Linked DNA regions of Homo sapiens. The protein of the gene in region 1 purifies or fractionates together with the protein of each later gene. This does not show direct contact. Each region holds a gene or a part of one and is shown in the gene's direction. Other genes may lie near its edges.

Region 1 (7,696 bases):
AATCAAATTGCATAATCCATGAGTCAAAAAGAAATCACAACAGAAATTTCCAAATATTTTGAACGGGGAAAAATTAACACCTGGCGTATCAAAACAGTACTTAGAGGGAAATTTAAAATCTTAAATGCACATGTTAGAAAAGAAAGGCTAAAAATCAATAATCTAAGCTTTCATCTCAAGAAGCTAGAAAAAGAACAGCAAATCAAATGCAAATAAAGATGGAAGACAATTTTATACACACACACATAGGCAGAAACAAAATAAATGACAAATATACAACAGAGGAAATCAGTGAAGCAAAAAGTTGGTTTCTACAATGATTAAAATTTAAAACTCTTAGACTAATCAAGAAAAAAAGAGGGAAAACACCAACTGCCAATATCAGGATAAAAAAAACACAACTACCAACCTACAGACATTTAAAAAATAAAAAAGAAATATTATGAACAATTTTATGCCAATAAACTTGACAATTTATGTAAAACAGAAACCATCCTTTAAAAACACAATTTTCCGAAACTGAAACAGGACGAAATTAAGATCTGATTAGTCATATCTATTATATTAATTAAAGTTGTTCATTAAAAACCTTCCCACTCTAATTCACAGCAGTGAATTCTCCCAAATACTTATGTCAAAATTATCACTAATTTGTACAAACTCCTTCAGAGAGTAGAAAAATAGACATTTTCCAAATCATTTGGGTGCCAGCATAAATCTGAATAGGTTATAACATTCAAACCTGAATAGGATATTATAAGAAAAGAAAATTACTATTCTTTTTTATAAATATGTATGGAAAATTCATTTTTAAAAATATTAGCAAATAAAATTTTAAAATGTATAAAAGAAAAATAATAATTGGAAAATGGAGTTTATTTTAGGAATACAGAGGCAGTTTAATATTTGAAAATTGATCATTGTAATTTACCATATTAAAAGATAAAGAACAAAACATGATTATTTCAATGGATACAGAAAAAAGTCATGTGATAAAATTCAACACACAGTAGTGGTAAAATTATTAGCAAACTAAAATCAAAGGGAACTTTCAGAGTGACTTTAAAAACCTACAGGAAACATCATTAACAATAAATTTTCAAAAATTTTCCCCTGGAGATCAAGAATGAAACAAGGATACCTGTCTTTTCTTCTCCAATTTAGTATTCTATCACAGGTCCTAAACAGCGGAATAAAGCAAAGAAGGAATAAAAGGCACTATGATTCGAAGGGAAGAAATAAAAATGTCTTTTTAAGTGGACATACTTGTATACCTTGCAAGCCATGAAGAATCTACAGGCTACTGGAATTAATAAATGAAGTTAACAATGCCACTGGATACAAGGTCAACATACAAACATGAGTTCTATTTCTATTTAGCAACAAAAAAAGTGAAAAATTTAAACATTATGCACAATAATTTCAAAAATAGCAGCTATTTATAAACAAATCTAGTTGAATATGTATAAGACTTCTACATTGAAAACTAAAATATGAGAAAAATTAAAGAAGATCTAAATAATTACAGGAATATACAATGTTCACTAATTGGAAGACTCAATGTTGGGAATATGTCAGTTATCTCTTAGTCAATCTATAGATTCAATAAAATCTTAAACAAAATTCCAGCAGCTTTCTTTGTGAAAATTAATGAGCCGAGCATTAAGTTTATTTGAAAATACAAAAACAGTAATAACCAAAGGAACCCTGATGAAAAGGAACCAAACTAGAGATACCACACCAAAGTCACAATCCGCAGAATAAAGAGTTAATAAGCTGGACTTCATTAAAATTAAAACTTTCTGCTCTGCAAAAGATACTATGAAGAGAATGAAAAGACAAGACATAAACTAGGAGAAAATATTTGCAAAAGGCATATCTGATAAAGGACTGTTATTCAAAATATACAAAGAACGACTAAAACTCAGCAACAAGAACCCAATTTAAAAATAAGGCAAAGACCTTAAGAGACACCCACCAAAGAAGGTATACAGGTGGCAAATAAACATATGAAAAGATGCTCCATATCATATGTTAACAGGGAAATGCAAATTAAAATAACAGTGAAATATGACTACACACCTATTAGAATGACCAAACTTCAGGACACTGACAGTGCCAAATGCTGGTAATGAGAGCAAAAGGAGCTCTCATTCATTGCTGGTGGGAATGCAAAATGGTACAGACACTTTGGAAGACAGTTTGGCAGTTTGATACAAAACAAAATATACTCTTACCATGTTATCTAGCACTCATGTTCCTTAGTATTTGCCCAAAGGAGTTGAAAATTTATGTTCACACAAAAACTTGCACAGAGACGTTTATAGCAGTTCATTCATAATTGCCAAAACGTGGAAGCAACCAAGATGTCGTTTAGTAGGTGAATAGATAAACAAACTGCAGTTCATTCAACCCATAGAATACTATTCAGCATCAAAAAGAAATGACCTAACAACCCATGAAAAGACATTGAGGAAATCTAAATGGATATTACTAAGTGAAAGAAGCCAATCTGAAAAGACTACATACTGTGTGATTTCAACTACATGGTGCTCTAGAAAAAGCAAAACTGTGGAGACAGTAAAAAAATCCACTTGCATTGGGTTCTAGGGGAGGGAGGGAGGTATAAATAAGTGGAGCACAGGGGATTTTTAGAGCAGTGAAACTACTTTGTATGATATTATAAAGGTGAATACACATAATTTTAAATTTGTCCAAAGCCATAGAATATACAGCACCAAGAATGGGCCCTAATGTAAACTATGGACTCCAGGTTATAATGACGTGCCAATGTAGATTCATCAGCTGTAGCAAATGAACCACTCTGGTGGAGGATGTTGATAATGGGTGAGGCTGTGCTTGTGTGGGGACAGGGGCATATATGAAATCTCTGTACTTTACTCTCATTTTTGCTGTGAACCAAAAACCATTCTAAAAATTTAGTCTACTTTTAAAAAACTGGAGAACTTACTTCTCAGATAACAAAACTCATGATAAAGCTATAATAATTAACACAATGAGTTATTGTAGGATAAACAAGATTGAATAAAACATCTTCAGAGCTATGGTTACCTAATTTATAACAAAGATGACATTTCAAAAACAATGGAAAATGGATTGTCTTTTAAATAGATGGTGCAAAGGTTTAAAGCATTCAGATACTTACATTTTAAACCTTTTGACTCCAAACTCATTCACTTGAAAAGTTAATTTCAGGTTGATTATAGCTTTAAATATGAAAAATGGAATAATTAATCTTTCAAAATACATCATACAAGAATATTTTCATGACCTTGGAGTATGTGAACATTTAAATAGAACACAAAAAAATGCTAATCATACATGAAACTTATTGACAAATCTGACTAAAGGTAAGAAATTTTATTCATCAAAGACACATAATAGACTTGAAATAAAAACCATAGAGTGGGAAAAGATATTTGCAATACATATATCTTAAAAAGGACTTATGCCCAGAATATATGAGAAACTTCTGCAGATCAATAAGCAAACAGGCAAATGCCTCCCCCCAAAAAAGTAAAAAGGTTTGCATAAGCCCTTCACAAGATTGTATCCTAATGGCTGATAAACATGAAAATGTGCTCAAATTGTTTAATCATCAGGGAAAATGCTAACTAAAATTACAATATCATATCACCATACACTAACCAGAGTGGTTTAAAATGGAAAAGATAGCATCAAATGTTGACAAGAATGTGGAGCAACTGGAACTCTCATACTTTGCTGGTATTAGTACGACTACTTGAGAAAACTTTCTCATTATCTGCTAAAGCAAAATATATGTGCACATCTTAATGCATAGCAATCCAACTCCTTTGAATATATTCAACATAAACACATATATGTGGTCACCAAAAGACTAGTACAAGGATGTTTATACCAGTACTACCCCAAAGAGCTTAAACCTGGAAAACAATGTTCATCAACTGGAGAATGAATAAATAAATCATAGTATATTCATACAACAGAATGATATAAAGCAATGAGAATAAAACAAATAAGAACAAGATGCCACAGATCAATTTGCTGAACATAATATTGAGGAGAAGAAGCCAGACACACGAGAGTAACAATCTATAACTCCATTTGTATAAAGTTAAAAAAAAAAAAAGCAAAAAAAACCTATGACAACAGAAGTCAGGACAGTGCTTATCTTTTGGGGAGAGGGTGGTAACCAGACAATAGCAGGTGGGGACTTGGGTTTGGGTAGTATTTTTAATCTAGGTTCTACTTACAGGAGTGTGTTCACTTTGCGAAAATTCATTGAGTTATACACCTATGATTTGTGCCATTTTCTGGGTGTTATTGGTGTTTACTTCAAAGTGAAAGTAATTTTTCTTAAACTTTAAATTTCTATAGATATTCCTGATCACTTATTTAATATAATCAAATAAGAAACACCAAACAAAGTGTATTTGTGTACTCAAGGGTACTTTTATGGAGATTAATATATAATTTTAGTTTTTTTCTCAAAAGTATTTTCTCACTGAAAATTAACTCCACAACATTTATTTAGAACTTTCAGCAACTAAGAGCTGGAGATACCATCGGGAGAGCTTATGTGACAAAAGGGTATGGATACACGTCAGTTAGAATTTAGGATGAAATGGCAAATACTATATGCAATAGTAAATTAGGACGCCTGGTGGCGCTGCAGGCTAAGAGTGTGGATAGTGGGCTCTGCGGATAACTCAGACGCCATTAAGCTGGGGAATCCAAACTCTAAAAGAAGGACGCATTTTAGGTAAGATCTAGTGGCTAGATCTTCAGGGTGGGCTTCGTTCTTGTGGAAATCAGTCAAGAAAGATCGGATTCGCGGTTATTTATGCAAATCATCTGGGTGGATTGTGTACGGAGTTAAACTGCGCCTTCTGGACCGGGTCTGAACAATGGAGACTGCGCTAGCAAAAACGCCACAGAAAAGGCAAGTTATGTTTCTTGCTATATTGTTGCTTTTGTGGGAGGCTGGCTCTGAGGCAGTTAGGTATTCCATACCAGAAGAAACAGAAAGTGGCTATTCTGTGGCCAACCTGGCAAAAGACCTGGGTCTTGGGGTGGGGGAACTGGCCACTCGGGGCGCGCGAATGCATTACAAAGGAAACAAAGAGCTCTTGCAGCTTGATATAAAGACCGGCAATTTGCTTCTATATGAAAAACTAGACCGGGAGGTGATGTGCGGGGCGACAGAACCCTGTATATTGCATTTCCAGCTCTTACTAGAAAATCCAGTGCAGTTTTTTCAAACTGATCTGCAGCTCACAGATATAAATGACCATGCCCCAGAGTTCCCAGAGAAGGAAATGCTCCTAAAAATCCCAGAGAGCACCCAGCCAGGGACTGTGTTTCCCTTAAAAATAGCCCAGGACTTTGACATAGGTAGCAACACTGTTCAGAACTACACAATCAGCCCAAATTCACACTTTCATGTTGCTACGCATAATCGCGGAGATGGCAGAAAATACCCAGAGCTGGTGCTGGACAAAGCGCTGGACCGGGAGGAGCGGCCTGAGCTCAGCTTAACACTCACTGCACTGGACGGTGGGGCTCCGCCCAGGTCCGGGACCACCACAATTCGCATTGTCGTCTTGGATAATAATGACAACGCCCCCGAATTTTTACAATCATTCTATGAGGTACAGGTGCCCGAGAACAGCCCCCTTAACTCCTTAGTTGTCGTTGTCTCCGCTCGAGATTTAGATGCAGGAGCATATGGGAGTGTAGCCTATGCTCTATTCCAAGGCGATGAAGTTACTCAACCATTTGTAATAGACGAGAAAACAGCAGAAATTCGCCTGAAAAGGGCATTGGATTTCGAGGCAACTCCATATTATAACGTGGAAATTGTAGCCACAGATGGTGGGGGCCTTTCAGGAAAATGCACTGTGGCTATAGAAGTGGTGGATGTGAATGACAACGCCCCTGAACTCACCATGTCTACGCTCTCCAGCCCTACCCCAGAAAATGCCCCGGAAACTGTAGTTGCCGTTTTCAGTGTTTCTGATCCAGACTCCGGGGACAACGGTAGGATGATTTGCTCCATCCAGAATGATCTCCCCTTTCTTTTGAAGCCCACATTAAAAAACTTTTACACCCTAGTGACACAGAGAACACTGGACAGAGAGAGCCAAGCCGAGTACAACATCACCATCACTGTCACCGACATGGGGACACCCAGGCTGAAAACCGAGCACAACATAACGGTCCTGGTCTCCGACGTCAATGACAACGCCCCCGCCTTCACCCAAACCTCCTACACCCTGTTCGTCCGAGAGAACAACAGCCCCGCCCTGCACATCGGCAGTGTCAGCGCCACAGACAGAGACTCAGGCACCAACGCCCAGGTCACCTACTCGCTGCTGCCGCCCCAGAACCCACACCTGCGCCTCGCCTCCCTGGTCTCCATCAACGCGGACAACGGCCACCTGTTTGCCCTCAGGTCGCTGGACTACGAGGCCCTGCAGGCGTTCGAGTTCCGCGTGGGAGCCACAGACCGCGGCTCCCCGGCGCTGAGCAGCGAGGCGCTGGTGCGCGTGCTGGTGCTGGACGCCAACGACAACTCGCCCTTCGTGCTGTATCCGCTGCAGAACGGCTCGGCGCCTTGCACCGAGCTGGTGCCCCGGGCGGCCGAGCCGGGCTACCTGGTGACCAAGGTGGTGGCGGTGGACGGTGACTCGGGCCAGAACGCCTGGCTGTCGTACCAGCTGCTCAAGGCCACGGAGCCCGGGCTGTTCAGCATGTGGGCGCACAATGGCGAGGTGCGCACCGCCAGGCTGCTGAGCGAGCGCGACGCGGCCAAGCACAGGCTGGTGGTGCTGGTCAAGGACAATGGCGAGCCTCCGCGCTCGGCCACCGCCACGCTGCACGTGCTCCTGGTGGACGGCTTCTCCCAGCCCTACCTGCCGCTGCCGGAGGCGGCCCCGGCCCAGGCCCAGGCCGACTCGCTCACTGTCTACCTGGTGGTGGCATTGGCCTCGGTGTCGTCGCTCTTCCTCTTTTCGGTGCTCCTGTTCGTGGCAGTGCGGCTGTGCAGGAGGAGCAGGGCGGCCCCGGTCGGTCGCTGCTCGGTGCCCGAGGGCCCCTTTCCAGGGCATCTGGTGGACGTGAGCGGCACCGGGACCCTATCCCAGAGCTACCACTACGAGGTGTGTTTGACCGGAGACTCAGGGGCCGGCGAGTTCAAGTTCCTGAAGCCGATTATTCCTAACCTTTTGCCCCAGGGCGCTGGTGAAGAAATAGGGAAAACTGCTGCCTTCCGGAATAGCTTTGGATTAAATTAGAGATCTCGTGATGACGCGTTGTTTTCTGCCATTTATCCCAAACTTTTTCAGATCTAGAATTCGAGAGTGTCATGGACAAAAATTTCACCTTGAGATTGAGCTTTTATTTCCCTTTTTAATGGATTTGTCTGTTGAACTTCATGCTGTCCAAGTGTTGAAAAGTCAATTTTATTTCATTGCATTTATTTACATAGTGTCATTCCAAATCCATGCATGCTGTTGATTTTCCTGAGATTTTTTTCTCTTCTTGTTGGTATTTGTTGTGATAAACCACCTTAATAAAATCAAGTATTAATTTTATTTTCTATATATTCTGCCCATTCTATTTCATCACACTCTTAAGTATTATATATTTGATGCTAAAATGCAAAAATTAAAAATGTTTCACATCATCATAT
Region 2 (7,033 bases), on another chromosome or scaffold:
AAAGGTAAACTGAAATAGAAAGGAGAGGATGAGGTTTATACATTAGTTGAGTCAGGAGGCATTTGTGGTACATTGGAAAAAACGGGACTAACAGAAGACTTGGGTTTGAATTTGGGCTCAGTTAAAAACTTCCATTGTGTGATGTTAGGCAAGTCACTTCATTTTTCTGATCTTCTTTCCTCATTCCTTATATGTTGTAACAACTACTCAAGACTTGTGAGGAAAAGGGGAAATGATTTTTAAAAAATCAATTCTTTATTTACGTAACAAGTTGGTTATGTCCACTGCATTGTGTGAAACATTACAGTATCATATAGGAAAGTACTGTCAGTACAGTGTTGGATCACAGGATTTTTTGAGAGTGCCTTATGAGTTAGTCTCATCATTGAGGGCCAACACATATACTTTGGATAGAAAGAATAAAATCCTCAAAGTGAAATTTTGATTAATATCCTCTACCCATTTATAGGTACACCTTATTTTAACCAAAGAGTATATGTGAAGGACCTAACCATCAAAGCAGAAAAATAAGGAGATCTTTGTGAAGTTTATGAAGAGTTCATGGGCCAGGCGCAGTAGTTCACGCCTGTAATCCCAGCACTTTGGGAGGCCTAGGCAAGCGAATCACCTGAGGTCAGGAGTTCGAGATGAGCCTGGTCAACGTGGTGAAGCCCCGTCTCTACCAAAAATACAAAAATTAGCCAGGTGTGGTGGTGGGCACCTGTAATCCCAGCTACTTGGGAGGCTGAGGCAGGAAAATAGCTTGAACCTGGGGGGCGGAGGTTGCAGTGAGCTGAGATCTCGCCATTGCACTTCAGCCTGGGTGACAGAGCAAGGCTCCGTCTCAAAAAAAAAAAAAAAAAAAGTTCATGGAAGTTTTAAGTATCTAGTAATCATTTAAAAATTATTTGAGTTAAAAGTAATCGAGTCTCTGATTTTTTTTGTTTTTTTGTTTTTTGAGACAGAGTTTTGTTCTCATTGTCCAGACTGGAGTGCAGTGGCACAATCTCAGCTCACTGCAACCTCCACCTCCCAGGTTCAAGCAATTCTCCTGCCTCAGCCTCCCAAGTAGCTGGGATTACAGGCATGCGCCACCATGCCTGGCTAATTTTGTATTTTTAGTAGAGACGGGGTTTCTCCATGTTGGCCAGGCTGGTCTTGAACTCCCGACCTCAGGTGATCTGCCCGCCTCAGCCTCCCAAAGTGCTAGGATTACAGGCATCAGCCACCACACCTGGCTCAAGTCTCTGATTTTTTTTTTTTTTTTTTTTTTTTGAGGCAGAGTTTTGCTCTTGTTGCCCAGGCTGGAGTGCAATGGTGCCATCTTGGCTCATCACAACCTCTACCTCCCGGGTTCAAGCGATTCTCCTGCCTCAGCTTCCTGAGTAGCTGGGATTACAGGCATGCACCACCACACCTGGCTAATTGTGTATTTTTAGTAGCGACGGGGTTTCTCCATGTTGATCAGGCTGGTCTCAAACTCCCGACCTCAGGTGATCTGCCTGCCTCAGCCTCCCAAAGTGCTAGGATTACAGGCATCAGCCACCACACCCGGCTCGAGTCTCTGATTTTTAAAACTCTTCATAATACCCCTTTATCCAATTCTTCATAGATGGTAATAACGTATAATTGGTGACATTTCACATCGCTTTGGGCTTATAAAGAATGTATTTTGACTTCAGGCATTTGTGTTTACTGTGCCATCAGCCTCTAGTTCATTTTACTTATTCTTTTCTTCTCCAGGTTTTTCGTTGGAATATACGTTGCACATTTATGGCGATTCTGAGTGTGAGGGCAGACTTCTGCCAGGCTCAGCACAGCATTTTCGCTGACAAGTGAGCTTGGAGGTTCTATGTGCCATAATTAACATTGCCTTGAAGACTCCTGGACACCGAGACTGGCCTCAGAAATAGTTGGCTTTTTTTTTTTTTAATTGCAAGCATATTTCTTTTAATGACTCCAGTAAAATTAAGCATCAAGTAAACAAGTGGAAAGTGACCTACACTTTTAACTTGTCTCACTAGTGCCTAAATGTAGTAAAGGCTGCTTAAGTTTTGTATGTAGTTGGATTTTTTGGAGTCCGAAGGTATCCATCTGCAGAAATTGAGGCCCAAATTGAATTTGGATTCAAGTGGATTCTAAATACTTTGCTTATCTTGAAGAGAGAAGCTTCATAAGGAATAAACAAGTTGAATAGAGAAAACACTGATTGATAATAGGCATTTTAGTGGTCTTTTTAATGTTTTCTGCTGTGAAACATTTCAAGATTTATTGATTTTTTTTTTTCACTTTCCCCATCACACTCACACGCACGCTCACACTTTTTATTTGCCATAATGAACCGTCCAGCCCCTGTGGAGATCTCCTATGAGAACATGCGTTTTCTGATAACTCACAACCCTACCAATGCTACTCTCAACAAGTTCACAGAGGTAAGATTGTGGCATGGTCTACTTTTTGGATTGATTTCTAGGTAAAATCCCATTAAAAAATTCTCTTAGCACAAAGCCATTTATTCTGTATTTGGAGTCATCCTGCCAATCCTGGTTTGAATTGGGTTGGGTTAGTTACAGCAGATTTTTTCAAGAACATTTTGTGAAATTTGGGGACTGTAGAGATATCTAGTACTGTTTTCTCTGTGTTCTTTCTACATTTATTGACAGGTTTTTTTGGTCAAACATTCAGTAATGATAATTAACATTTATTGACCACGATATGCACTTAGCATTATAACAAACAATGTTACACATTATGCAACGAGCAGTGTTTGTGCTTAAGGTCACAAATACAAAAACCCTATGAGGTGTAGCTACCATTATTTCCCTCTTACCAATGAGGAAACAGGTTCAGAGCCATTTAGTAATTTGCCTAATGGCACATAGTATGTGGTGGAACTAATGTACTTGCCTAGGTGTCTGACACTAAAAACCATTCTGTATGTACTTCAGATATTCTAACCACCTTTGATGAAAAGGCACCCCCAGACTACTTCGTTGTAATAATCGTATACAAGGGTCCAGAAACTTGGGTGAAGGAAAGGTGGTAGAGGTAGTATTTTTATGTCAGATCCTTAATATTTTTTCTATTGGTAGGAGAAAAAACTCTTTGTACTTCTTTGAGCAAGCATTTGAACATAAGTTTTTTTTTTTTTTTGGGAGATGGAGTCTCGCTCTTCGCCAGGCTGGAGTGCAGTGGCACTATCTCGGCTCACTGCAAGTTCCCCCTCCCGGGTTCACGCCATTCTCCTGCCTCAGCCTCCCTGATAGCTGGGACTACAGGCACCTGCCACCACTCCCGGCTAATTTTTTGTATTTCTAGTAGAGACGGGATTTCACCATGTTAGCCAGGATGGTCTTGATCTCCTGACCTTGTGATCTGTCACCTCGGCCTCCCAAAGTGCTGGGATTACAGGCATGAGCCACCGTGCCCAGCCCTTTTTTTTTTTTTTTTTTTTGAGACGGAGTGCAGTGGCACGATCTTGGCTCACTGCAACCTGCACCTCCCAGGTTTAAGCGATTCTCCTGCCTCAGCTCCCAAGTAGCTGGGACTACAGGCGCGCGCCACCACACCCAGCTAATTTTTGTATTTTTAGTAGAGACGAAGTTTCACCGTGTTGGCCAGGATGGTCTTGATCTCTTGACCTCGTGATCCGCCTTCCTCGGCCTCCCAAAATGCTGGGATTACAGGCGTGAGCCACTGTGCCTGACCAGAACATAAGCTTTTTAATCATTCTTGGGTTGTTGAGTTTAAATGATTTTTCTTGCTGTATTTATGGAGTAGAGTTAGAAAGGTGGGTGAACTCTTAGTGATTTTCATTTTATAGATGGGAAAACTGAGACCAAAAGAGGATTTGACTTGCTTAAGGTCACAAATACCATAAAAAATTTTATCGCAACTTTTCAATGAATGGCTATTACAGAGTTTATTTTAATGGGATTTTATTTGTATTTTGAAACATTTTTAAAATTCCTGACAATACTTCTACCTTTCTTGAGTCTGTATTATAAGAAGGCCTTTTTGTGAAAAATGAAGTCCTTTAGCAATTAAAATAATTTTACACTTTAGATAACTAAATGATGGACCCTTCTTATAGGATATCACTGTGCCTGCTTATTTATACTTATAATTCCCTGAGCTTCTTAACTTTGTATACACAGCGTACAAGTTGATTCTACGCCTGTATGCCCTCAGATTGTTCAGTCACCTTTAAGCCTGGCTGAATTATGTGGTACTATTTTCAACCTGTGGATTCCTTGGCCATAGTCTCCAGAAGTGGCACAGGCCACTGTCCTCCTGCAACTATAAAAAAGATATTGGTAGCCCCTTGAAGATAGGTAGTCACTGGGTTAGGGATTCACCGTAGGGAGAGTTTTAAAGGAGCAAGGCTTCTGGCTATAACTGCATTAGCTGTCTTTTTAATATACCACTTTTTTTCTTAATTTCAGAATTTTATTTCTTTAAAAAAAGCATGTTTATTTCATAAAAATATAAAGATACAGATAAGCAAAAAGAATTTAACAACATTTAATTGTTAATAACTGGCTTCTAGATGTTTTTCTCTGCATATATCTGTGTGTATTCATAAATACACATACAGATAGGATCACACTATATATTTTTTAAAATCTTTCCCCATCTTCCTTGGTATTGTTTTTATAGCTGTCATAGTGTTCACTATATGGATGTGCCATACTTCTTTAATCATTCCCTTATTTTTGGACCATTAATGTGGTTTCTAATTTTTCACCATTCCAGTTTGTGGTGAATGTGCTGTTACCTAAATATTTGTATATGTCTTTAATTATTTCTTTTGTATAAACTCCCAGAAGTAGAATTTTTAGGTTGCAGTGTATGTGAACTTTTGTGTAAGTTTTCACGTTATGCTACCAAACTGCCCTTTAGAAAGGTGAGTCTCACACTGCCACTGAGATTTCATGAGTGTCCATTGAATATATAACCACAGTGAGAACAATTCTGATCTTTGTCTAAAAATGATATCTCATTGTTTTAATTTATAATAGTAGATTTCTTTTTTTTTTTTTTTTTTTTTTTTTTTGGAGACGGAGTCTCGCTCTGTCGCCCAGGCTGGAGTGCAGTGGCACGATCTCGGCTCACTGCAATATCTGCCTCCTGGGTTCAAGCGATTCTCCTGCCTCAGCCTCCTGAGTAGCTGGGATTACAGGCCCGCACCACCACACTCAGCTGATCTTTGTATTTTTAATAGAGACGGGGTTTCACTATGTTGGTCAGGCTGGTCTCGAACTCCTTACCTTGTGATATGCCCGCCTCAGGCCTCCCAAAGTGCTGGGATTATAGGCGTGAACCACCCCGCCCGGCCTATAATAGTACATTTCTACATTTTTGGCTGTAGGTTTCAAAAACAAGTTCCATTATAATTTTTTTTTTTTTTAAAGGAACTTAAGAAGTATGGAGTGACGACTTTGGTTCGAGTTTGTGATGCTACATATGATAAAGCTCCAGTTGAAAAAGAAGGAATCCACGTTCTAGTGAGTGTGTAGTATTTAAATTTTTCAAAACAAGTTGTATCTTTCAAACATAAATATTTATAAAACTAGGCCAGGTGCACTGGCTCACACCTATAATCCCAATATTGTGGGAAGATCACTTGAACCCAGGAGTTCAAGACCAGCCTGGGCAATGTGGCGAGATCTCATCTGTACAGATAATTAAAAAACTGGTGGGGCATGTTGGTGCACACCTGTGGTCCCAGCTACTTGGGTTTTTGAGGTGAGGGAATCACTTGAGCCCAGGTGGTTGAGACTGCAGTGAGCTGTGGCCACACCACCACATTCCAGCCTGGGTGACAGAGGGAAACCCCGTCTCAAAAAAAAAAAAAAAAAAAAAATTAAAAACTTGGTATTAGGTGGGCACGGTGGCACACATTTGTAGTCCCAGCTACTTGGGAGGCTGAAGTGAGAGGATCGCCTGAGCCTGGGAGGTCAAGGTTGCAGTGAGCCTTGATTATGCCACTGCACTCCAGCCTGGATGAGAGTAAGACCTTGTCTCAAAAACAAAAACAAAAAAACCCTGGCAGTAATACTTTTGGATTTTTTTAAGGTTGTAGTGGAAAATACATTATTGATAGCAATCTTTCAAATTCTTTTGGATTAACAAATTGGCAGTTTTGTTCATTTGTGCTCTTAAAGCCTACAAATCATAGTATTTTCAACTAATAAAAAGCAAAATTTAGTGTGCTCTTATTTTAACAACATGTAAATTTGCAAGTTTTATTTTTTAGGAAATTAATACAATATTTAGCTTTTGTTTCTAGGCTACTAATTTGAATATAATGAAAGTAATTTCCATCAGACATTCTTAAGTCCATATGGAACTCTGCCACTTTGCAAGTACAAGATTAGTTACTTAATATTTTGTGGATAACTTGTAGGAGGCAAAAAGGTGGGATAAGAGGATGAGGAGAGGTAGAAGGCATCCTCCTCCAGAGTAATCAGCATAGTTTCTGATACTTTTTGTTAGGTTTCTGAGGAGCTTTAGTATGATTAGATTTTTTGTCTAGCTCAATTTGAGCACAAAGTGATTGGAATTATTTTAAATTAAGTTCCTTTTTAGCATCAAAATAGGCTGTTTCCTTATAGCAAATGGGAGCATCAGATTAGTTAACATTTTATTCTTTCTTCCCTAAGTAGTTGTCTAAGTTGTAGGAGCAGCTTTTAGGAGCACGTAATGAAATGATCTTGTAATTTTAGATGTCTTTGAGCTGTTGGTTTGATTGTGGGAAGGTTATGTAGTAGGAAGAGAACTGGAGATTTTATAAGTAGTTAGGAAGAACGTAACAAGGAAGATACTGGTTTAAGGTTATGTTCCTGCTTCTTATTGAGAGGTAGTTCTGTAGTCTTTATTATATTGGTCAGTGGTTGGGAAGGCAGTTGATGCAAAAAGAATAATGACCTATTGGTAAGGCAGTCCTCTTATATCTGATCCATAGTTTCCTCATGTCCATTTTGGTGAAAATAAAAACTAAATAGCCAAATGTGTTTTAAAAAAATGTGTT
Region 3 (7,033 bases), on another chromosome or scaffold:
CACCTTGCGTCCAGGCCTGCTGGCACTCCCTCCCAGTTGATCTGAGTTTTCCTGGAGCCGGCCCCAGGGCCCGCCAGCCTATTCTGTCAGCCCTAGGCCAGCACAGAGGGCTCGGGTGCCCAGGGGCTGCCTCAGCCTGCGCCCCTCAGAGCTCCTCCGGGCTGGACCCGAGACCCCACAGCCGCCCCGATCTCAGCTGCGTTGGGCGCGCAGGGGTGGGGCAGCTGAACATGATTTTCCACTTTGTGTCCCCAATCAGACCTGCCTGACCAGTGCACGCCCAACCCCTGCGATAGGAAGGGGACCCAAGCCTGCCAGGACCTCATGGGCAACTTCTTCTGCCTGTGTAAAGCTGGCTGGGGGGGCCGGCTCTGCGACAAAGGTACGTGAGGCTGAAGACAAAGGCGGGGTCTCCCTCCATCTCCGACCCTGCCCTGATCCCCGCTCCTCACTCCCACTCCGGGGCACGGCCATCCTCAGGCTGCTCTCCGACAGCCCCAAGGAGGCTGCAGCCCTGAGGTATCCTGGAGCCCCAGGAGAATTGGGAGGAGCTGCAGTCTCCTTTCTGGGAGCAGGGCTGGAAGGAAAGGAAACACCAAGTGATGCCTCAGCACCCACTGATTGAAGGGCGGGGGGGGAAATTTCACCTCTGACCGTCCTTGAGTGCAGACCTGTGGTGTCAGTGGCACCCACTGATTGAAAGGCGGGGGGGAAATTTCACCTCTGACCGTCCTTGAGTGCAGACCTGTGGTGTCAGTGGCACCCACTGATTGAAAGGCCGGGGGGAGATTTCACCTCTGACCGTCCTTCAGTGTAGACCTGTGGTGTCAGTGAAGACCCTGGAGGAAGAATAGCTCCAGGGCCTGGTGGAGACCCATAGTGGAGAGCCCAGCAGGCCAGCCTGTCCCCTTTGGCAAATCCTACCCCACAGGTGGCCTGGGAGGGCTTTGCTAAGGAGTGGCCAGCTCTGGCCTGGCCTTGTCTGTCCTCGGCACCCAGAGGTCACTCCTGGCCTGCAGCCTCCTCCTGCAAGCACATGGGCATCCAGGGAGCTGAGCCCTGTGGGCTGTGACTGCCAGCAGCTCCCCAGGCTGAGACCGCAGCTGGGGATCCCCCATGCCCTCCCACCATCTACCTCCACACGCAAGGCCAGGACCAGGGGCCATGAAACGCTAGGGCTGCTGAGTGGGGTGTGAGGTCCAAGCCCTGGGGTCCCTCTCTGCTCCAGGGCTGGGCTGTGCACCTCTAGGATCTCTCTCTGCTCGGGGGCTGGGCTGTGCACTCCCAGGCTCTCTCCCTGCTCCAGGGCTGGGCTGTGCACACCCGCGGTCCCTTCCTCCTGCTCCAGTGCTGGGCTGTGCACCCCCCCGGCTCCTTCCCTGCTCCAGTGCTGGGCTGTGCACCCCCGGGCTCCCTCCCTGCTCCAGGGCTGGGCTGTGCACCCCCGGGGTCCCTTCCTCCTGCTGCGGGGCTGGGCTGTGCACCCCCGGGCTCCCTCCCTGCTCCAGGGCTGGGCTGTGCACCCCCGGGGTCCCTTCCTCCTGCTCCGGGGCTGGGCTGTGCACCCCCGGGCTCCCTCCCTGCTCCAGGGCTGGGCTGTGCACCCCCGGGGTCCCCTCCTCCTGCTCCGGGGCTGGGCTGTGCACCCCTGGGCTCCCTCCCTGCTCCAGGGCTGGGCTGTGCACCCCCGGGGTCCCTTCCTCCTGCTCCGGGGCTAGGCTGTGACCCCTGGTCTCCCTCCCTGCTCCAGGGCTGGGCTGTGCACCTTTGGGATCTCTCTCTGCTCCAGGGCTGGGCTGTGCACCTCTGGGCTCCCTCCCTGCTCCAGGGCTGGGCTGTGCACCTCTGGGATCTCTTCCTACCGTAGCCAGGGGCTGTGCACCCTTGGGCTCCCCTTCAGGCCTGTGCTTGTTCCCAGATGTCAACGAATGCAGCCAGGAGAACGGGGGCTGCCTCCAGATCTGCCACAACAAGCCGGGTAGCTTCCACTGTTCCTGCCACAGCGGCTTCGAGCTCTCCTCTGATGGCAGGACCTGCCAAGGTAAGGCCCTGGGGTGAGGCCTCTCTCCTCTCTCCTCTCCCCACCTTCTATTTTCGGTCATGTCTGCTCTTCTGCAAGCGGCTGCTGCTGGCTGGGTTCCTGTGGTTCTGGATGGGATGGGGCATCCTGCAGAGACTACACAAGCCCAGGCCAGCCGCAGCACAGGGAGCTGCTCGGCACCACACCAGGATGACTCACCCGGCATCTGAGGGCCAGGACTCAGGGGGCCGGCCCAGCCCATGAGGCCACACTGCTGGCTGTAGGGCCTCGTCCATTCCCCAGAGCCTCACAGAGCCTGGAAGTGCTCCAGGCACTTGTGTAGTGAGCTTGTGGGTCAGGGCTCCAGGCTAGGGTCCCCCCGCCGTCCACTCTCCCCAGCATCCCCAGAAGCACCCCGTTGTTGGTCTCCCTCTGTCCACTAAATATAGCCCTGCCCTCCCCACTTCCTTTCATATTTCAGTCTGGGGTTCCCTCAGCCCAGGGCCAGAGCTGGGGAGCCCCAGGACACCCCAGAAAGTCACTGTGAATGTGCGCGCCCCCGACGCTGTTCCAGGTGCTGCTGCTGCCACTGGCCCTTTGCCACTTTGCAGGGGGAGCACCTTCCTCCTCCCTCCCCACGTTGTATCTGGACATGCCCAGGCGTGTCCCTGAGAGTTTCTGGCATAGTTCTTAGCGCTGCTGCTGACTGTCCAGGACACCGAACTGCGTGGACAGGACAGACAGTTGCTCAGGGAGAAACAGCCCCAGGATCTGGAGAGTGAATCTGACCAGACAGGAGGGGCCACACCCCATCCCCCGATTTCAAAAGGCAGCTGCTATTTCTGTCCACTTTGGTGGTTCCCTTCCCTGACCACCCAGGAGTTAGCCCTGTGTGCAGATGACGTGATTCCCATCTTAACACATAAACCCATTTCCCCGCCGAGGACAGAGCCCCTCCCATCACTGCTCTATCCCTGACCTGGAAGACAGCAGCACCCCAGGTTTAAAGAGAGGTGAAGACTAGGCCGATCCTGAGAGATGACGTCTAAAGCATCTCCCGTGGGTCCCTGCACCAGTCGGGCACTCCCGGCAAAGTCTAGGCTCACAGTTACTGCCCACAGTGACAGAGGCATTCCCGTCCTCTCCTCCTCCTCCCCATCTTCCTCTTCCTCCCCACCATTCCCCCTCCTCCTTTCCCCACTCCCCCTCCTCCTCTCCCCACTCCCCCTCCTCCTCCCCCCCACTCCCCCTCCTCCTCCCCATCTTCCTCCTCCTCCTCATCTTCCTCCTCCTCTTTCTTCTCCTCCTCCCCCCACTCCCCCTCTTCCTCCCCATCTTCTTCCTCCCCCTCCTCCTCCTCATTCCCCTCTTCTTCCTCCTCATTCCCCTCTTCTTCCTCCTCATTCCCCCTCCTCTTTTTCCCCCTCCTCCTCCCCCATCCTTATTTCCCCTCTCCTCCTCCTCCCCCACCCCTCCCCACCCCCTCCCTCACCCCTCCCCACCCCCTCCCTCACCCCTCCCCACCCCCTCCCTCACCTCCTCCCCCACCCCTCCCTCACCTTCTCCTCTTCCTCCCTGCTTCTCCTCCTCCTCCCCCTCCGTCGTCCTCCCCCTCCGTCCTCCTCCCCCTCCGTCCTCCTCCTTCCCTTCCCCATTCTCCTCCCCCTCCCCCTCCTCCTCCCCCTCCTCCTCCTCCCCCTCCTCCCCCTCCTCTCCATCCTCTCCCTACCCCCTCCTCCTCCCCTCCTCCCCTCCCCCTCCTCTTCTCCCCCTCCCCTTCTCCCCCTCCCCCTTCTCCCCCTCCCCCTTCTCCCCCTCCTCCTCCTCCTCTTCCTCCTTCCCCTCCCCCCTTCCTCCTCCCACTCCTACTCCCCCTTCTCCTCCCCCACCTTTCTCCGTGCCCCTGCCTTTGCTCTCCTCTGGTGACTAAAGGGCTCTTCATTTCAGGGTTGCCCCTCCTACCCCAGGGTGCTTGGCCGTAAACAGCATCTGTCCCACATTAGATGCTCAAGTCTTAGGATTGTGGTTTAACCCGGTAGTGAAAATTGATTGAAACCAGTAAATGCTTCTCTTTGGGGTTGGGGTTTTAGTTTCAAATGCCCCCGGGGGGTTACTTTTTACGGCCCCGTGTCCTGTAGCACCGTCATTTAAATGGAACAGCACAGCGTGCACCGCCGCCCCCCACCCCTCCACCAAGCAGGGCCCTTCCCAGCTCTCCACCTGCTGGGCTGAAGTCAGCCTTCCCAGCCGGGCCTTGATCAGAAGCGTGCACCAACACCCCGGGAGCTGCCCGGTCAGGGGAGGAGGGCAGGGAAATGGGGCCAGGGCGCGCTGGCCCCACAGAGTCTGGATGCGACCTCTGGGTGGTGCCCTGGCCAGTCCCTGCAGCCGCCTGCCCCAGCCCCGTCTGAGATGCCGCTGTGCTGCGGTTGGCCGGTTTTTTTTTGCTTGCAGACATAGACGAGTGCGCAGACTCGGAGGCCTGCGGGGAGGCGCGCTGCAAGAACCTGCCCGGCTCCTACTCCTGCCTCTGTGACGAGGGCTTTGCGTACAGCTCCCAGGAGAAGGCTTGCCGAGGTACCCACGCCACGCGGTCACCCTCGCTTTCTCTGACGCCCAAGTCTAGACACGGGTGCCAGTCACTGCCCGAGCCGGTTGCTAACAACCGGGTGCTTCTGGTGAAAGAAAGTCTCTTTCTCCCTGTTTCTATCAGCCTGGTAATGGCCTGTGCTACCACCATGCCCGCACACACGTGAGCACACACAGGCACCCATGCCCCTTGTGCACATGAACGAACCGCACACATGCATATACACCGCATGTACACACGTGTGTACCCTTCTCCACCTGCATAGACGGGGCCTCTCCCCAAAGGGACGGGGAGCAGCAAGCCTCCCTCTACTGTTCTCTCTTTCCAGCCGCCATGGGGAGGGCCCTGTTGGCCGTAGAGCCTCTAAGAGGGGCCGTGCCCCCAGTGATGGGAACAGTGGGGCTGAGTAGGCAGACAGAGAGGGTGGGGAAGCCCAGGCTGCCTGCACTGACCTCCATTTCCCACCACAGCTGTCGGCCCCTCTGTGCTCCGGGGGACACCTCACTGCACAGCCCAGACCCTGTGCTTCCCAGACCTGCCTTCCACACCGGCCCGGCAGCGGGGGTGGGTCTGGCTCGTTGGGAGCACCCTCCTGGGACACCTGCGACATTTTTATTCCCTCAAGAAAGAGCCCGGGCAGGAGCAGGCCGAGGGTGCAACCTAGCTTTCCAGTGGGGGGGGACGCGACCCCCAAGCCGCCCCCGTTAGAATCTGCATGTAATTCCTTGAGCGCACCTTGCGTGTGGTTTGAGCAATCGCGGTGTGATCCCACGGCGGGACAGCGTAGAGGCCTCCCCGGCTCACCGCCGCTTCCCTCTGGCTGGCAGATGTGGACGAGTGTCTGCAGGGCCGCTGTGAGCAGGTCTGCGTGAACTCCCCAGGGAGCTACACCTGCCACTGTGACGGGCGTGGGGGCCTCAAGCTGTCCCAGGACATGGACACCTGTGAGGTAGGCGGCCCCTGGCCCCGCGGGCCCTTCACGGTGGTTCCGGGGGCCCTCGCCGGTGGGGGCTTTCGGGAGAAACACTTCCGTGAAGACCTGGCCTTTGCTAAGGTGTTGGGGATCTCCAGGGCCATGTGGAGGTTTGGGATGAGAAACGCTTCTGTTCCCTGGAAGATGTTTGGTTGTATTTATAGAGTCTCTATGGCAACTCCCAGCTCACAGTGGATCAGCCTGGTGTGGACCCCAGTGTGACACTCACGGGGGCACGGTCCCCACTCTGCCGCGTGCCAGGGAGCCAACGTGACCGACCTGTCACACCGGTGCCTGTCACACCGACCTGTCACACCGGGGCCTGTCACACCGGTGCCTGTCACAGCATGACCTACCTGTCACACCGGGGCCTGTCACACTGGTGCCTGTCACACCGACCTGTCACACCGGGGCCTATCACAGCATGACCTACCTGTCACACTGGTGCCTGTCACACCGACCTGTCACACCGGGGCCTATCACAGCATGACCTACCTGTCACACCGGGGCCTGTCACACTGGTGTCTGTCACACCGACCTGTCACACCGGGGCCTGTCACAGCATGACCTACCTGTCACACCGGGGCCTGTCACACTGGTGCCTGTCACACCGACCTGTCACACCACTGCCTGTCACACTGACTTGTCACACCAGTGTCTCACACCGACCTGTCACAACAGTACCTGTCACACTGACCTGTCACACCGGTGCCTGTCACACCACTGCCTGTCACACTGACTTGTCACACCAGTGTCTCACACCGACCTGTCACAACAGTACCTGTCACACCGACCTGTCACACCGGTGCCTGTCACACCACTGCCTGTCACACTGACTTGTCACCGGTGTCTGTCACACCGACCTGTCACACTGGTGCCTGTCACACTGGTGCCTGTCACACCGACCTGTCACACCGGTGCCTGTCACACCGACCTGTCACACTGACCTGTCACACCGGTAGGAATGCAGTACCCACATGTGGACGTTTCTGGGCAGGGCGGCTCTTGTCTTTCCTCTTCAGCCTGGGCCTGTGCCTGGGGGTTGATGAGAGTGAGCATTTATTTAAAAAGCAAAACCACAGGTGGAAAGAGTCACCAGGACAGCTTCTCGGAGTCGCAGACCTGGGATGCAGCCGTGGGGCTCTTGGGTCTGGGCTGCGACGTTCAGGGCTTCCAGCCAGCCCTCGCCTTGAGGTTCTTTGCCTCGCTGCCTCATGTACTCATGCAGAGGGTGTCGGACCCCTGCGAGATGTCCAGCTCACCCTGGCTGCCCACGGTGGGCAGGGCAGGCCTGGCTCAGCCCCAGCCCCTCCATCTTCCAGGGGTGTCAGCTCACACCGGCTTTGGTTCTGTCCCCCTTCGGGCAGCGTGGAGAAACCACAGCCCAGAACAGGGAACTTTCCAGGACAGCCATCTTCAAGGCATCCATATCTATTTCATAATAGTGTAT

The links. Proteins that work in one complex are often made in the same cells at the same time.
Region 2: the proteins of PCDHB5 (region 1) and PTP4A2 purify together in Homo sapiens (affinity purification with mass spectrometry; 2 studies listed by BioGRID and IntAct, with this or other methods). This does not show direct contact.
Region 3: the proteins of PCDHB5 (region 1) and GAS6 purify together in Homo sapiens (affinity purification with mass spectrometry; 2 studies listed by BioGRID and IntAct, with this or other methods). This does not show direct contact.

What each region holds. Positions count from the first base shown.
Region 1 is NC_000005.10:141,130,525-141,138,220, forward strand, and holds the start of PCDHB5 (protocadherin beta-5 precursor), read left to right. Parts: upstream 1-4,681; 5' UTR 4,682-4,910; coding exon 4,911-7,298; 3' UTR 7,299-7,696. UniProt on the Homo sapiens protein: Potential calcium-dependent cell-adhesion protein. May be involved in the establishment and maintenance of specific neuronal connections in the brain.
Region 2 is NC_000001.11:31,914,369-31,921,401, reverse strand, and holds part of PTP4A2 (protein tyrosine phosphatase type IVA 2), read left to right. Parts: intron 1-1,743; 5' UTR 1,744-1,773; coding exon of another isoform or gene 1,774-1,839; 5' UTR 1,840-2,336; coding exon 2,337-2,432; intron 2,433-5,414; coding exon 5,415-5,507; intron 5,508-7,033. Other genes in the region: uncharacterized LOC128031832, read left to right, coding at 1,774-1,839.
Region 3 is NC_000013.11:113,833,077-113,840,109, reverse strand, and holds part of GAS6 (growth arrest-specific protein 6 precursor), read left to right. Parts: intron 1-259; coding exon 260-382; intron 383-1,862; exon of another isoform or gene 1,863-1,918; coding exon 1,919-2,041; intron 2,042-4,474; coding exon 4,475-4,597; intron 4,598-5,345; exon of another isoform or gene 5,346-5,426; intron 5,427-5,437; coding exon 5,438-5,559; intron 5,560-6,530; exon of another isoform or gene 6,531-6,618; intron 6,619-7,033. UniProt on the Homo sapiens protein: Ligand for tyrosine-protein kinase receptors AXL, TYRO3 and MER whose signaling is implicated in cell growth and survival, cell adhesion and cell migration.